Regions from separate parts of the Homo sapiens genome. Here region 1 is linked to region 2. The links come from fine-mapping of genetic effects on gene expression. Tissue or cell type: nasal epithelium. Region 2 holds a variant in brackets; the other region holds the start of a gene. All regions are shown on one strand. Distances are from middle to middle.

Region 1 (8,085 bases), 250 kb after region 2:
CCAGGCCAGCCCTCACAGCCCCACCTCCAGGCTCACAGGCCCTGAGGCAAGGCCCCCTGGAGCCCACCAGAGGGCAAGGGTAAGACTTAAGGACACCCCCTGCCTGTAGTGCTTGGTGACGAAAGGCAGCGGAAAGGGGATTATGCCAGTCCATCAAACACTTCCTTATAGTTCCTCTTGCCACATTTCCTAACACCAGAGCATGGCTCTGCCAAGAGAATCTTGCTCCATGGATAAGCCTCAGTCCCCAGTACTAGACAGGTGCTTTCCGGAAAGGCCCACACTACCGATGGTGCCACCTACCTGGGCTGGCCAAGGTGAGCGAGGGGCCTCTGGCTATTCAGGTCTTTCTTCCTTCCCTCTTTCTCTCAGATATACCTCCTGAGCAATCGGAGGTAAGTGGGGAGGCATTAGCCTCGAGAGCTGGCTTTCCGGAAACAGGACGGTAGCAGCGGGACACTCACTCCTGGCTTCTCCCAGAGGGAGAAGGGGCTCCTCCTGGCCTTCCCATGGCAGGTCACTGTTCCTTCTAACCATTTTCCTACCCCACCACCAACAACCCTTCATTTTGTGGAGTGTAAGAGGAAAAAAAAAAAAAAAGCCCAATAAAGTCCCCCTGAGCCAGGTGAAAATTCTGAAGCCAGATCTGGGGTCTCCAGAATCCAGGCAGGGGGCACCGCGGTCACCAGTTCCTCCCCACATCAGAAACACTCCGTACTGGCAAATTTTCGGAGGCTCTCTCCCGCCTCCATCCATTGGAAAGCCAAATGCTGCGGCCTGTGGCGCGGGACGGGCTTGAGAACATGCACCAGCCTGACCGGGGACTGGGCCGCCTCCCCGCGACCAGCAATCCTCCCTGAAAAAGGAGTCTTTGCAGATATTGCACCAACGTGCCCACAGGAAAGAGAAAATAGGTGCTCTAAGCATGTCGGACCCCAAATTAAGAATAAAAGTCCTCGAGGGCTGCAACGCTCTGGGGTGGGGGGTGGGGGACTGGTTCAAAGAGTAGGATTCTTCAGCTAACTTTTCCCCCCTCCCCATTCCTTGGGGCATGTGTCATGGCCTGTGACACACCGCCAAGGGAACATGGATGCCAGGGAAATGTCTACACACGCTACACGTTTGTGACATGCCATGTAAGCGACACCCTATTTCCTGGCTGGGTTTTCTTGGCACAGGTGTGGGCAGGCAGTGGATTCGGCCCCCTCCCACTGCGCTTAGTAAACAGGATCACGGTGGCCCCAGGGAGGAGTGTGCATTCTGGGGAAGACAAGCTACACCCCCAATGAGGATGGGACCCCCACGGCAAGCCTCAGGCCCAAGCCACAGCCGGTATTTGAAACTGTCCTTGTTTCAAAACACAAAGCATCCTGTTCAGGCTCCTACCCGCCACCCCCACTCTCCCCTCGACCCCACCACAGCTGTCTTTCTCCACGTACGAAGAAGGCCACCATTTGCAGATCTGATTTCAGAAACAGATCAATGGTTTTTCCTCTCCGACTCATCCAGCTGACCCAGTCCTACCCATGTATTTAAAAACAATAACAAAATTAAACCTCCAGCAACAAAACACACACGTATACACACACTCTACAGACAATGCCGGACCAGGGCTCCACCAAGCAGCTTCTAGGCTAGAACTCGACCACCGCTGGGTCCTGAGATATTCCAGGACCACTGCCCCCTCCCCCTCCACTTCCAACCTCTCAATGTGCGAATGAGATTTTCAGAAAGGGAAGCACCCCGTTCTGCCTGCCAGCCCTGGCAGGAAAGAGAATAAAGGACGGGTAAACCAAACAGAGAAACTGGCTTCTGGAAATTCTTTGGGTTTGGGGGTTTGGAGGTTTTGTTGTGTTGTTTGTTTTTTTTTTTAAATCTGAGGGGTGGTATTTTGTTTTCCCCTCCCCCACCCCTCAGATCCAGATGGGCCAGGGGCTTCCAGAGAGAACCCCCACCACCATCAGGGCCCAGCGTCGGGTCCATCCTCGAGTCCCAGCCACCAGAAACACAAGAGCTGGGGGCAGAAGGTCCCCAGGCACCCAGCCTGGCGGTGGGCCGAGTCTCCAGCATTTTAAGGGTCTCTCCTGAGCCCGGTCGGCTGGTTTGGGCTTCAGACTCCAAAATCGAGCCCCGCGAGCAGGCCAGGAGCGAGGCGCCCTGGTTCTCCCCGTTCCCCCGGCACCCCCCACCGCCCCCCAGGCCCTGGGCTCCAGGTGCAGCGCCAGGGGGCAGCCAGGGAGGGCGCATCTCGGGCCCCGAGGAGAGGCGGGGGTGCAGCCGCGCAGAGCCACTCACCGTGGCGGACGCCAGGCTGTTGTCGGCCAGCGTTAGGTGGTGCGGCTCCCAGCGCCTCAGGAATTTCGAGGTGAGGATCTTGCTGAGAAAGGTCCGCGGGTGCCGGATGACACAGACCTGAATGTCGCCCTCCTGCAGCAGTTTGTACCTCATCCCGTTGCAAAGCAGAAGAGCCCGGCGGCAGGGCACGGCGCCCATCTTCGTGCCTTCGGGGGCCGACACGTCGCCCCCCAGCAGCGGCTTGGTCTCCTCGATCTGCCGGGGGTCGCCGCCGCCGCCCGAGCTGCTGGTCACATCCATGGCCGCGCCGGGGGAGGGGGCTGGGGGCGGGGAGAGGGGGCTGTCCTGGGCTGCTGGGGCGGCGGGGCCCCCGGATCCGGCGGCCCGCACCCCCCCACCCCCCGGGAAGGTGGGGGGGTGTGGGGCTGGGGGCGCCCGCAGGGGAGGGGGCGCTGCCCGCGGGGGGCGGCGCGTGCGGCGGGCTGGGCCGGCCTCGGCGCTTCCTGCGGGGCTCCGGGCTTCCTCCTAGCTCGTCGGGTGCATGCTCGCGGCGGCTGACCGGGCTCGGCGGGCGACGGGGAGGGGCGGGGGAGGCCGAGGGCGGGCCGGGGCCAGGCGCGGAGGGCGGGCGCCGGGGTGGGGGCGGCGGGGTGGGGGCGGGCGTGTCTCGGGGCCCCGCGCCGCCGCGCGCGTGTGTACAGAGCGTGTGTCCGCGCGGCCGTCCGGGCGAGAGTGGCCGCGGGCGGGGCGGGCCGCGCGCCGGGCTCCCGGAGCCCGGGGCGCCCGCGCGATTGGTCCCCGCAGGGTCATGTGCCCGCCCCTCTGACGTCAATGGCGGCAACGGCGGCGGCCGCGGCGGCTTCGGCCTCTCGCGGGCGGAGTCCGCGGTCCGGGCGGGGTCGCGGCCCACGACGGGGAGGCGCGGCCCGACGGGAGGGGCAGCCCCTGGGGAGGGGGCTGGGGCGGGCGAGCCCCGCGGGGTCCCGGCCCGCCCCGCCTGGAATGTGGGGAGGGGGCGGGGCGCGGGGGCGGGGCGCGTGACGTCACGCCAGCCGCGCCCCCGCGGGTGCCCGGGCGGGAGCCCAGCCAGGCTGCCGGAGCCTGGGGGCCCGCGCCTCACCCACCCCCGCCGCCCCCGGGCCGGACTCGGACGGGTAAAGAAGGATACCCGAGGGCCGGGGGCTGGGTGGAAGGACGGGGACTGGAACCCTCGACCCCTGACGCCCCCTCCGCTGTCCAGGCTGTCCAGCGGGCTGGCCAGATGGGGCCGTGGGACGGGGACGCCTTCCCGACTGAAAGTGTCCCCGCGGTGATCCGGAGGATGAGCCCACCCTGCCCTGTCTCCCACTGCGGGACCCAGCCGGCCTCGAACTCCTGGCCTTTGACGTCTGCTGGCTTTGGCCTTGGGGGTCCTCAAACCTTCTGGAGAGAGGGGACGGTCCGCCCATCCCCCTTCTTTCTTCTGCCCAGGGAGACAGAGCCTCTTCTAGGAACCCACTTAAAGCACCCCCCAACCTACACAGCCACCCCTCTTGTGCGCACCCCAGCAGCTCCCCCTACTTCACCTTCCCTGGGACCCCACCTGGTCATTTTATCTGAGTTCACAGGCCCAGCACCAGCCCACGAGAGAACCATATTCGATTCTCTTGTGACCCAGGGTATCAGGAACTGCAGCCTGGATGCAAAAAGCTCCCTTTCTGCCATCACAAGCAGCCGGCACCTAAGGCCACCTAGCAAATGCTCAGCTCCTCAGCCAGGTTTTCTTATCTCCACGTGCTCCTGCAGCTAATAACGTTAAAACCCTAGATTTTTGCCTTTTTAAGTGAAGGCGCCTCTGTAGTGAACACATGAATGTGTGCAGCGTGTGTTGAACTGCGTCGTGAACACTGCGGAATATCCACAGCATCTGTGCCGTTGGTGGAAATTATTCACCCCCCCTCTCCCAAGAACAGGCAGCATGAAGGTGCTCCCCAGAGGACCCTCTCCCCGAGCCTGGCCAGGGTTTCAGGCAGGGGATGAAAGGCAGGTCCCAGGCTGCATCCCTCACCAAGGAAAGAAGACTCACATCCAGCCTGCCCAGGAGATGCCTCCTTGGGGAGGCACAATTAGATTAGAAAGTTAGAAATTCCTTAGCTCCCCACAATTTGCTGCCATTTCCTTCCAGTTTTGAGCTTGAACAGCCTTGAGAAAACCACCAAGCATGAAGGGGCAAGCCCTAGATATGTGGGTGTTGGGGGGTGGTTGGGGCCAAGAAACCCCCCAGTCCATTAAGCGGGTGGGATTAGATCCTTTGTTCAAATATTTTCATTGAGCTCCTGCTGTATGCTGGTCACAGGCCAGGCACTAGGGTATTAATGGTAATGACTATAATAACCACAGTGGCCAGAGGCTTCCTATGTGCTAAGAATTTTGTACGCACACATCATTCTCTTCTCACACCCTATGACATAGGTGCTGTCCTCATCCTCAACCACAAAGCATGGAGGTCAGAGTCCAGAACAGTAACAGACATTGTGCTTGGTGCTCCAGGAACAGAAAGGGGGATGTCTAACCCAGTGTGGGGGACCAGGGTACTCTAAGAGTTCTTTAGGAATCAAGTAAAGAAGGGGATAGGTGCTCCAAGAAGACGAACTGGCTCCTACCAAGGCAAAGAGATGGGAGGATGCTCAGCTTGTTCAGGAAACTGAACTCACTTGCCATGGGGTGCAAGGTCCCTGGAGGAGGTGGAGCAGAGATGTAGGCGGTGAGCAAGCAGCACCCTGAAATGCAAACCCAGGGACTAGAGCAGTGGGGAGACACCACATGGGCCATGCAAAGGAGTGACTTGTACATGGCTTCTTCAAAAGGCTGCAGTGTGGCACAGATGAGCATTGCAGAGGAGAAACCTAGAGGCAAGGAGGCCAGTGAGGAGACTTTCATGCTCACCTACCCCCCACAGAAGGAAGCAACAAGGGCTAGCACAAAGTCACTGGGTGGAGTGGCCCAGTGGCAAGCAAAGCAGCTGCTGTCCACTTCGGGGACATCTGTGGACACGCCCCTACCCATACAGGGCACAAAACTCCAGTAGAAGGAGGAGATTTAGCAGGATGCAAATCCCTGATATATTCCAGGACCATTCCAGACATCCTCCATGCAGCCCAGTACAGTGGTTGATTTGTAAACATTAAGTAGGACATACCGTGATAATAATGACCGGTACCCAAGCACCAGATACCATGCTGGAGGCCTTATGTATTTGTTCTCGTTTATTCCTCCCCACCAGCCTAGGAGGTAGGAACTATTACCATCCCCATCTTAAGTGAGGAAGTTGAGGCTCAGACAGGGTCAGACAACTATCAGGATCCAGCCGAGGTTTGAACCTCAGATTCTGTTCGACCTCAAATTCCATGTGCTTCCCACTCCTCTGGGAATTTAGGAGGACATTACAAATGTCTGTCTTTGTAATGTTGTCCTGAGCAGGCATTCAGGAAGAAAGTATTGAATTCAATCAGTGTCCTCTTTAAATAGCAGTATTTCTTGAATATAGTTTCAAATCAGTGAAATGGAGCCCCCAAGACACGGCAAAGAAAGTTCCTGAGGGCAGAAGCCAGAAGCGCCTGTCTGGCAACAGCACTAGCTCAGTGCCTGGACAAAGCTGGGGTGCAGCAAATACACAGGGATTGATTGTCAAAAACATACTCCTTGGTGCTTAGCAAAGGTCCAGCCACAGGACTGGGTCAGTAAGTTGCGGGGGATGAGCTGGGATGGCGTTAGTACTCAGTCTGTGACAGTGTGACAGTTGAGTCCACAGCCTCCTAGACTGGGATTTGGCTAACTCATTGCAGAGCCCCTCCACCTTCCACTATCCCAGGCTCCCAACCTAGAAAGGAATCTGAATCCAGCCATCAGATTCCATCAGAGCCCCATCCCTGGAGCTCCCCAAATTATAGGAAACATGAGCCCGTCGAGCTCCCGTGGATGGACCATGTCCCCGAGTTGTGCTCAATGCCCTGGAACTCCAGACCCTCCAAAGAATGGTCCGAGCCCCTAAGAGCCTCCCCTTCCAACACTGAACTTGAGAAGCTTACGGAGTAGCAGGAAGGGCACGGCGGTTCACGCACCCTTCACTCCCCTTGGGCTCTCGCAGGCTCGTTCACTAACCAGAGGCCAGTTCACCAGACAAACCTGTCATTTTCTGCATTCTTTGCTGGCGGTGTCTCCTTGTTTGAGCCAGGTTCCAAAGGATGACGTGTGCCCTCACCTGAACTACCGCTTTCGTTCAACAGCCCACTGTGGGGTCACCCCGGGCCACACTGGTGGAGGACCCACTCGATCAACTCAATGCTAGGAGCTGGGATGCCAAACTGAACAGTAAAGTGCCTTCATGGGCACAGTCTCAACTCGAGTTCTCTGAGGTGTCCCCTGTAGCTAACTCAGAAGGGAAAGACACACCCGCTACCCAGGCTGCCATTAAGGAATTTGATGAGGTGGCAAAGTACCTGTTGGGGAGGAGAGCAGTGGAGCTGAGGGGCAGCCTAGGAGAGGTTGAGCTGAGGCGCCTTCCAGCAGCCACACCTGTAAGTGGATGTTCCCCCTGCTCCCATGAGGGCAGCATTTTATGTGCTATGGATCTGTAGCACCCAGCACCGTCCCCAGCCCTCAAATAGGTGCTAATAAACAGGTGTTTAACGGAATTAAATAAAAGAAAGAATGAATGAAGCGGGCAAAGTAAATGCATAGTGATTTTCGGTTGAATGGCTGGATCTCGCTGCGATGTCAATGTCCTCACCCCTGAGCTACGTGACACTGCTTCATTCATTTTCTTTTATTTGATTCCATTAAACATCTGTTTATTAGCACCTATTTGAGGGCCGGGGACGGTGTTGGGTACTACAGATCCATAGCACACAAAATGCTGCCCTCATGGGAGCTCAGCAACTATTGTCATGGGGGGTCAGCAACTATAGTCAAGGGGCCAGATTCAGCCCATGGACTCCAAAGCCTAAAATATTCACTCTCTGGCCCCTTTTCAGAAAAAGTTTGGCAACCCTTACAATAGACATAAATAACTTCAAGAAGAGAGATACCGGCAAAATGTACTAAAATAATTAGGAAACGATGAGTTGTATTACCTTTTAAAAAATATTATTCATTTAATTGTAACTTTACATAACTTAATCTTTTTTTTAACTGGCTGTTTAACAACCAGCAGTCTCCAGTGGAGATCCACTCCAGCCTCTGCACAGCTCTCTCTCCTTGCCCCACCCCACCATGAAATGGTGCACAAACCCCAATGCACTGCACTGTACCCTCCAAGCGGGCAGGGTTCATTCTGGTTTTGCTCACCACTGTATCCAGGGTCGTGTTCAATAGTCAGCCTGCTGAAAAAAGGAAAGCCTGATCTATAAAGTTTGACAATTTCCCTGGTGCAAATACAACCACCATGGCCAATTATTATACAAGCTACCAACATGTGTCCTTGGACATGGAGTTAGGAAGACATGCACCCCACGGCAGAGTTTCCACCACACAGATACAATACACCAGCAAGGGGCCAGATTCAGCCATGGACTGCAAAGCCTAAAATATTCACTCTCTGGCCCCTTTACAGAAAAAGTTTGGCGACCGCTACAATCGACATAAATAACTTCAAGAAGAGAGATACCGGCAAAATGTAGTAAAATAATTAGGAAGTGATGAGTTGTATTACCTTTTAAAAATATTATTTACTTGTAACTTTACATAACTTAATTTTTTTTACTGGCTGTTTGACAACCAGCTTGCAAAATTTCTGAAAAATTAACAATCAGC
Region 2 (8,104 bases):
AGATTCCTTGCTCTGCCCAGTGATTCACATAATAGCAGAACCAGACAGGATCAAAATGCTGCCTCAGAGCTGGTTGAGAGCTGCCATGCCAGCCCAGCCCGAAATCAAGGCCTCGGCTGCGGGCAGAAACCACCAGCCAGTGGAAAACCACCCCCGGTGAGCCGGCGTTTACAGTAAAACACTGACATCACAGGCTGGGCTCTGCACCAGGCGGGGATGTGTTTATACACAGGCAATGGGTCTCTGAAAGCTGTTCTGAATGCCTGTTGGTGACAAGCTTCAGAAGGCCTCTAAGGGGCCCTCGTGCATCCTGCCATCCCCAGACAGCCGGCCTGAGATGCAGAAACAAAGGCCTCACCTCTTGCCTGGGGTCTTCGGCGAACCTCTGAATCACGTACTTCAGTTCCCTGGAAGAGACGAGGCGGCCGGAGTTACTGCCGGGGTCTGGAACTGAGTGGGAGGTGTGGGAAGGGGAGGGGATGGTGTCAAGGAAGAACGGGCCAGGGAGCTGGGCAAGGCGGTGGATCAGGGACACGTGTCTCAAGAGAACTGCCAAGAGGAGCCACCACTGCCTCCCAGAATGCATGGGCCACGGAGGGAAGACCTCAGGACAGAGGCCGTGCGTGCCAGAATGGAATGAGGGCGGTGCCCAGACACTCACTTGGTGAACTTCTCATGTGCGAGAGCTCTGCAACAAAAACAGGGGAAAACACGGCGGTTAACAGAAGCGTCGGAAACAGCACAATGTTCCCAAGATTAACCTCTGGGGACGTCTAGACTTTATGTCTGATTCAAAGAATGAAGAGGAATGTGAGTGAAATGCCAACATTTTGTCCCCACTCAAAGCTCCAAAACAAAGGCCTTCTTTGAGGAGGCGGCAGATCAGAGCAACATGAACACACTGGGCCCCCCATTCCCGAAAGTTCCCTGTGCCCACACCTGTGAATAAGAGGGGCTAAGCTGCTGCCTGAGCATGTGTGGGTGCATGTGGGCTCCGGAGACCCAGGTGTGTTCATTAATTGTTCCACGATTAAGGCGGGCGGCACTCATTACTGCACACATCAGCGGCCATGGGGGACCATTCTTCTAAGACAGTTGCCACAGCCAAGAGCGCCCAGGCCTATGGGGACGGGGACTGAGGCCAATGACGTCACGACTCTGCTGAGACTGAGCGCCTCTTAGGAGGTGGATTTCTCCGGCCTCAAGTACTGGGGACCCTCGGGGACTGGCCAGGCCAGCACATGGGGCAATTACTGCGTGTAATGTGCCCTTACAGAGGCAGCATTTCCTAAACACGCTTGGTAATCGGCTCCTTCGAGAGCCCCAGCTGCCTCCCGAGGCTTGCTCCTTCCAACCTCTTGAAAGAGACCTGGAGGCATTTCAGGGCCTGGTTATTTTGACAAAGCCTTCTCTTCAGGCCATTATCCACCAGACAGCGTTCTCTCTAGTTTCCAGTGATCAATTCAATATGGTGCTAGGGGCCGGCAAGAGAGAGGCAGAGGGTCTGTTTCTGGCCAGGTTTGCTGCAGAGCCTGAGCTGAGCGTTGTACCGGGCGTAATTAGAGCGCTTCCAGCATCTCAGTACGGCACAGCGAGCAATGCTACGCGCATTATCTTTTGATTCTTACTATCGCCCTCGGAAGAGGAGCGGCAGGTATTACGGTTCCCATCTGGTGCATAATAAAAGACGATAACTGCACGGCCTGCCAGGAGCCATGGGGAGGGCTCTGTTTGCATTCTTAGCTCATGAATCCTTGTGACAATGCAGTCAAGCAGCTCCTACAATGTCCCTGTTCTCCTGAGTTCCCCATTTTTCTGAGGGAAGATGTGCCTCCCCAGGGGTCCCACAGCTGAGGACGTGGCTGAGCTGGTACCGACGTCTCCAGGGTCTTCCCGCTGTGACTTCGCTTCCCCATAACATGACTGGCCCCCCACTAAGGCCTTGGTGGACAACTGAGGTTTGTCTCACAGGTGGGAGGGCTCCGGGGATGCACACGGGACTTACTCTTTGGGGAATGGAATGGGTTGAAGCAAACTGGCCAGAGACGGTCTCCAGTCATCATAGTCTGACCTAGAATGAGAGAGGGTGACAGTCAGCTTTGGTTGGGACAAGGAAGGTTTATGGCACTGTTTTTGGTCCCAGATGGGCCAAAAGATGGGGTGAGAGCCTGGCAGGTAGTCAGTGGCACTGACTTCTCCACCCACTTCCACCTCCAGGATGAGCAAGTCAATGTTCTCAGCGTGGCCTCAAGGACTCACAACTGGGCCTGTGCAGAGACTTCCTCATGGCACCCGAGGGGGTGAGCTGTCTATTCCCCAGACTTCACAATGCCCTTTGAACCAAGGCTACGTGATCATTGTTCATGCCCTCTTTGGGACCATTAGGGGGTGTTTTAGGCTGAACTTTGCCCCCCATTCATATACTGAAGCTCTGCACCCCAGTACTTCAGAATGTGACTGTACTGGGAGACACAACCTTTAAAGAGGTGATTAGGTTACAATGAGGCTGTAGACGGATGTCCTTAGAAGAAGAGGAAACACGGACACGCAGAGCAAAGACCAGCCAGGACTCAGCGAGAAGGCAGCCATCTGCAAGCCAGGAGAGAGGCCTCCAGAGAAACCAGCCCTGCCCACACCTTGATTTCAGGGTTGTGCCTTCCCGAACTGAGAGAAATACATGTTTGTTGAGTAAGCTATGAGGTTGATGGTACTTTATAGCAGTCCTAGCAAACTAATGTAGGGGGCTTAGGCTGGGACCCTGGGGCCATTCTCACCTTTCTGTGATCAGAACTGAGGGAAAATTCTATAGACAGAATCATAAACAACAAACATTCTAAGCTGTTTGTTTGTAGTTTGGGTCAAACCTCCTGATTTGTTGGATCCCTTTTTTTTCTTTTTCTAAAATTTATTATTATTATTTGAGACACAGTCCTACTCTGTTGCCCAGGCTGGAGTGCAATGGCACGATCTCAGCTCACTGCAACCTCCACCTCCTGGGTTCAAGTGATTCTCGTGCCTCAGCCTTCCGAGCAGCTGGGATTATAGGCGTGCGCCACTATGCCCAGCTAATTTTTTGTATTTCTAGTAGGGATGGGGTTTTGCCATGTTGGCCATGCTGGTCTTGAACTCCTGGCCTCAGGTGATCTGCCTGCCTCAGCCTCCCAAAGTGCTGGGATAGGCCAGGTGTGGTGGCTCACGCCTGTAATCCCAGCTGCTCAGGAGGCTGAGGCAGGATAATTGCTAGAACCTGGGAGGCGGAGGCCGCAGTGAGCTGAGATCACCCCACTGCACTCTAGCCTGGACAACAGAGCGAGACTCAGACTCAAAAAAATAAATAACTCAAAGTGCTAGGATTACAGGTGTGAGGCACCATGCCTGGCCTTGGTGGATACTTCTATTTTTGCTTTCAGACAACAGCTTTTCTTCTTTTCTAAGAGTTGATGCTAAATACCCAGGAATCCAACTTACAAGGGAAGTGAAGGACCTCTTCAAGGAGAACTACAAACCACTGCTCAATGAAATAAAAGAGGACACAAAGAAATGGAAGAACATTCCATGCTCATGGATAGGAAGAATCAATATCGTGAAAATGGCCATACTGCCCAAGGTAATTTATAGATTCAATGCCATCCCCATCAACCTACCAATGACTTTCTTCACAGAATTGGAAAAAACTACTTTAAAGTTCATATGGAACCAAAAAAGAGCCCACATTGCCAAGACAATCCTAAGCCAAAAGAACAAAGCTAGAGGCATCACGCTACCTGACTTCAAACTCTACTACAAGGCTACAGTAACCAAAACAGCATGGTACTGGTACCAAAACAGAGATACAGACCAATGGAACAGAACAGGGCCCTCAGAAATAATACCACACATCTACAACCACCTGATCTTTGACAAACCTGATAAAAACAAGAAATGGGGAAAGGATTCCCTATTTGATAAATGGTGCTGGGAAAACTGGCTAGCCATATGTAGAAAGCTGAAACTGGATCCCTTCCTTACACCTTATGCAAAAATTAATTCAAGATGGATTAAAGACTTAAATGTTAGACCTAAAACCATAATAGCCCTAGAAGAAAACCTAGGCAATACCTTTCAGGACATAAACATGGGCAAGGACTTCATGACTAAAATACCAAAAGCAATGGCAACAAAAGCCAAAATTGACAAATGGGATCTAATTAAACTAAAGAGCTTCTGCACAGCAAAAGAAACCACCATCAGAGTGAAAAGGAAACCTACAGAATGGGAGAAAATTTTTACAATCTACCCATCTGACAAAGGGCTAATATCCAGAATCTACAAAGAACTTAAACAAATTTACAAGAAAAAATCAACCCCATCAAAAAGTGGGCGAAGGATATGAACAGACACTTCTCAAAAGAAGACATTTATGCAGCCAACAGACACATGAAAAAATGCTCATCATCACTGGCCATCAGAGAAATGCAAATGAAAACCACAATGAGATACCATCTCACACCAGTTAGAATGGCGATCATTAAAAAGTCAGGAAACAACAGGTGCTGGAGAGGATGTGGAGAAATAGGAACACTTTTACACTGTTGGTGGGACTGTAAACTAGTTCAACCATTGTGGAAGACAGTGTGGAGATGCCTTGAGGATCTAGAACTAGAAATACCATTTGACCCAGCCATCCCATTACTGGGTATATACCCAAAGGATTATAAATCACGCTGCTATAAAGACACATGCACATGTATATTGATTGCAGCACTATTCACAATAGCAAAGACTTGGAACCAACCAAAATGTCCATCAATGACAGACTGGATTAAGAAGATGTGGCACATATACACCATGGAATACTATGCAGCCATAAAAAAGGATGAGTTCATGTCCTCTGTAGGGACATGGATGAAGCTGGAAACCATCATTCTGAGCAAACTATCGCAAGGACAGAAAACGAACACCGCATGTTCTCACTCATAGGTGGGAACTGAAAAATGAGAACACTTGGCCACGGGGTGGGGAACATCACACACCGGGGCCTGTTGTGGGGTTGGGGGA[G/A]GAGGGAGGGATAGCATTAGGAGATATATCTAATGTAAATGATGAGTTAATGGGTGCAGCACATCAACATGGTACATGTATACATATGTAACAAACCTGCACATTGTGCACATGTACCCTAGAACTTAAAGTATATTAAAAAAAAACAGAGTTGATGCTAATGACGGTAATAACAATGACAATAACAACAGCAGCTCCGATGTCACGGAGACTTTCCACACACACTGCAGGATGCTAAGGGCTATACCTTAGTTCATTTACTCTTTACAAGAGCACAATAAAGTCAGTGTGACTAACCCCACTTAACAGATGACGAACTGGAGGCTCAGAGGTTTAAGGTCACACAGCTGTGGCATATGAGGAGTCAAATCCAGGCTTCTGTGACAGCAGAGCCTTGGCTCTCACCAGCCCTGAAAGGCCACGGCTGTGATCTTAGCAAAAGCCAACGCCTGCCTGGGTAAGGAAGGAGGGCTAAACCTCAGTGAGAGCAGCTGCGGGAAGCACCGTGCTGTTCACCTGACTTCACTTAACCCTTTCATGAAAGAGCCTCCTTCCTGTGTGCAGAGACAGCGGGAGAGGTCAGTTACCCACTCCGAGTCATCTACACAGCCTAGGAAGGGGTAAAGCTGGACTCAGAACCAGGTATTTCAGGCTCTATCACACCATGGTGTGTGGTGAAGCCAGGCACCAGGGTGTCACCCCCATCCGACCCTGGGAAGACCACTGTCCCACAACCGAACAGTATTAGCACTGCTGATAACGCAGATGCAATTCGCTCTGCGCTGCCTGCGCACCGGGGCTTGAAGTAAGGGCACTGCTTGTGTTCGCTCATGGGATCTACCCAGAGGACCCTGTGTGCTGAGTCCAAATTACGGACAAGGAGCAGTATGGCAATTCACTGACCGTGACCACAGGGCTGTGATACAGCCAGGCCACAGCAGGGAAGCAATAGCTTCGGGAGTTTCCTGAGGCCCAACAGGCTGCTTCCCGACCACCTACCAGCACAGCTTCATAAAGAGGGAGTTTTTTGGCCAACTCTTGCCCCCAAAAGCTGGGAGCGTCCAGAGAACTCGCCGGCGTCTCAGTCTGAGTACAGATGGGCTTGTATCACACAGCAGAGCACTCACACACGGCCCCCAGAGACTGCAGTCATGACAACCCCCATTTTACAGACGAGGAAAATGAGGCTCAGAGCTGTTTGTGATTTCCCACAAGTCACCAGCAAGTGGCTGAGATCTGACCTCAGGTGCTTCAAAGACCATGACCCGTCCTCTCGGCCCCAGCACCTGCACTGTGTTTATAACCAGTTCCCCCACCTGGGTTCCGGATCTCTCTGGCTATAGGGACTCCGCGGAAAAACAAACCCAGAGGTAGTCAGTTCTCGCCTAAGCCAGGCCTGGGCACCTCTGAGGGCCCAGAGCTTAAAACCGTGACACATAAAGTGAGGGGTGGCCACTGGAGCAGTCCCCATCCGAATCACAGAGCTGTCCCTGGTGTTCCCCAGCTTCTGACCATCTTGCCTCGGACCACCCCAGGAGGGGCCCAGGTCTCATCTCTGCATCCCCCATGCTGGGCCCCGGGCTGGGTGGATGGCTGGTGCTTGGGAGGGGACTGCTGAACACAAGGCCCAGTGCACACTGGGACCGGGCCAATGACAGAGCCTGGGGCCTGTGACCGGCTTCAGAGCAGAAGGGATGTTGAGTCTCCATCTGGGGGACTAGCAAGTGCCACCAGGTGCCAAGATCGAGTGGGATGCTGACTTCGATCCTGGCTTGCACTGGGGCAGGAGGTGGGATCTGAACCCTTGTCCAGTGGTCTGTGTTGGGGAGGCGCTGCAGAGAGATGCCCCGCTGACACCTGGGCACCACCCACGGGAGAGGCCAGGGGGTGCTCAGACCCGGGCTGGGCAGAGGGGTGGTCCCGGGACCCCTACCCACATACGACTCACCACAGATACACTGTGTATCGGTTTGCGTGCTGTGTGTCTAACTGTGCCTTACATAGAAACGGGAGGAGATGTTTTTTTCACCAAGTACAAATGTTCACTCCCATCGACAACAGGCGGTTTAGATAACCCCTGAGTGAGGGCTTTTCCTGCCCCACCTTCCTCCAAATAAGCCCACGATAGAGTGGCAGCCTTCAGAACCCCAATCATACCCTGGAAGCTTCTGAGGAAAGGCTCCGATGCCAGACGCGGAGAAAAGAATGACCAGGAAAGCCTGTTGCCTGAGATAAGTCCTGACAGTGATGCCAGCGACCGCTTACTCACTGCCTACCCGACTTGCTCACTTAATCTCCAGAGCGGTATGTGAGGGCAGAGGGTGCCGGTGAGGAAGCTGAACTCCACGCCTGGGAGGCAGATGAGGACTGACAGCAGGTCCTCTGGACTGCAGTGCTTGAGTGCGGAAGGCCCAGGTGCAGCCTGGGGTTCTCAGAGCTGCAGGAGCCTGAGGCCTGTCGTGTGCATGTCAGGACATGGAGACCCCTTTATGCCCCCGTATTCACATGCTCCCTTCTGAGGGGTCATCTGTTTTTGCAGCTAGCTTGTCTTCCCTCCAGAAGAATCACCTTCCTCCTTTCCTCCCACCTGTCCCTGACTCATGGTTTCCAGAAAATGGAAATGCAGTTGACAGCAAACCTCGTCTGCAGCGCCTGCTGCGTGCCAGGTGCTCTCCAAGGGCTCCCATGCGTCAGCCCATGCAACTCTCCCAGCAACTTGGCTGGGCGGGTGCTCTTGGCACCCCCATTTTATAGGCAGGAAAATGGAGACACAGTGATGGGCTGCCCTGGCCCCAGGCCACACAGCTGGTGAGAGCTGGGATCTGAACCTGTGAGCCTGGCCCCAGTGTCTGTGCTCCACCCTCTCAATAACCATGTCTCACAAGGAGGGTGGCCCGGCTCACACCTGAGAAGGAAGACGATCTCCCTATATCACAAGGACACTGGTGGGCACATGGTGGCTCACGCCTGTAATCCCAGCACTTTGGGAGGCTGAGGCGGGAGGATTGCTTGAGGCCAGGAGTTCGAGACTGGCTTGGGCAACATAAAGAGATCCCATCTCTAAAAA

The links. PIP is the estimated chance that this variant, and not a neighbour inherited with it, causes the effect.
Region 1: CMIP starts here. The variant in region 2 is fine-mapped to the expression of CMIP in nasal epithelium (TOPMed, PIP above 0.99).

Annotation. Positions count from the first base shown.
Region 1 is chr16:81,439,752-81,447,836 of GRCh38, reverse strand. It overlaps CMIP (c-Maf inducing protein), which reads right to left and starts at 3,029. Exons shown (of 21, transcript NM_198390.3): 1 at 2,296-3,029. The coding sequence starts at 2,595. RefSeq lists enhancers at 1-725, 726-1,491, 3,656-4,188 and silencers at 2,037-2,336, 2,767-2,816, 2,887-3,236, 3,347-3,446.
Region 2 is chr16:81,685,742-81,693,845 of GRCh38, reverse strand. CMIP (c-Maf inducing protein) reads right to left here. Exons shown (of 21, transcript NM_198390.3): 11 at 2,006-2,071; 12 at 662-688; 13 at 359-407. Among named protein-coding and RNA genes, the nearest start is that of MIR6504, 78 kb to the right of the region's middle. RefSeq lists enhancers at 2,107-2,746, 6,625-7,362, 7,363-8,102. The variant G/A (reference allele first, on the strand shown) is at 5,038.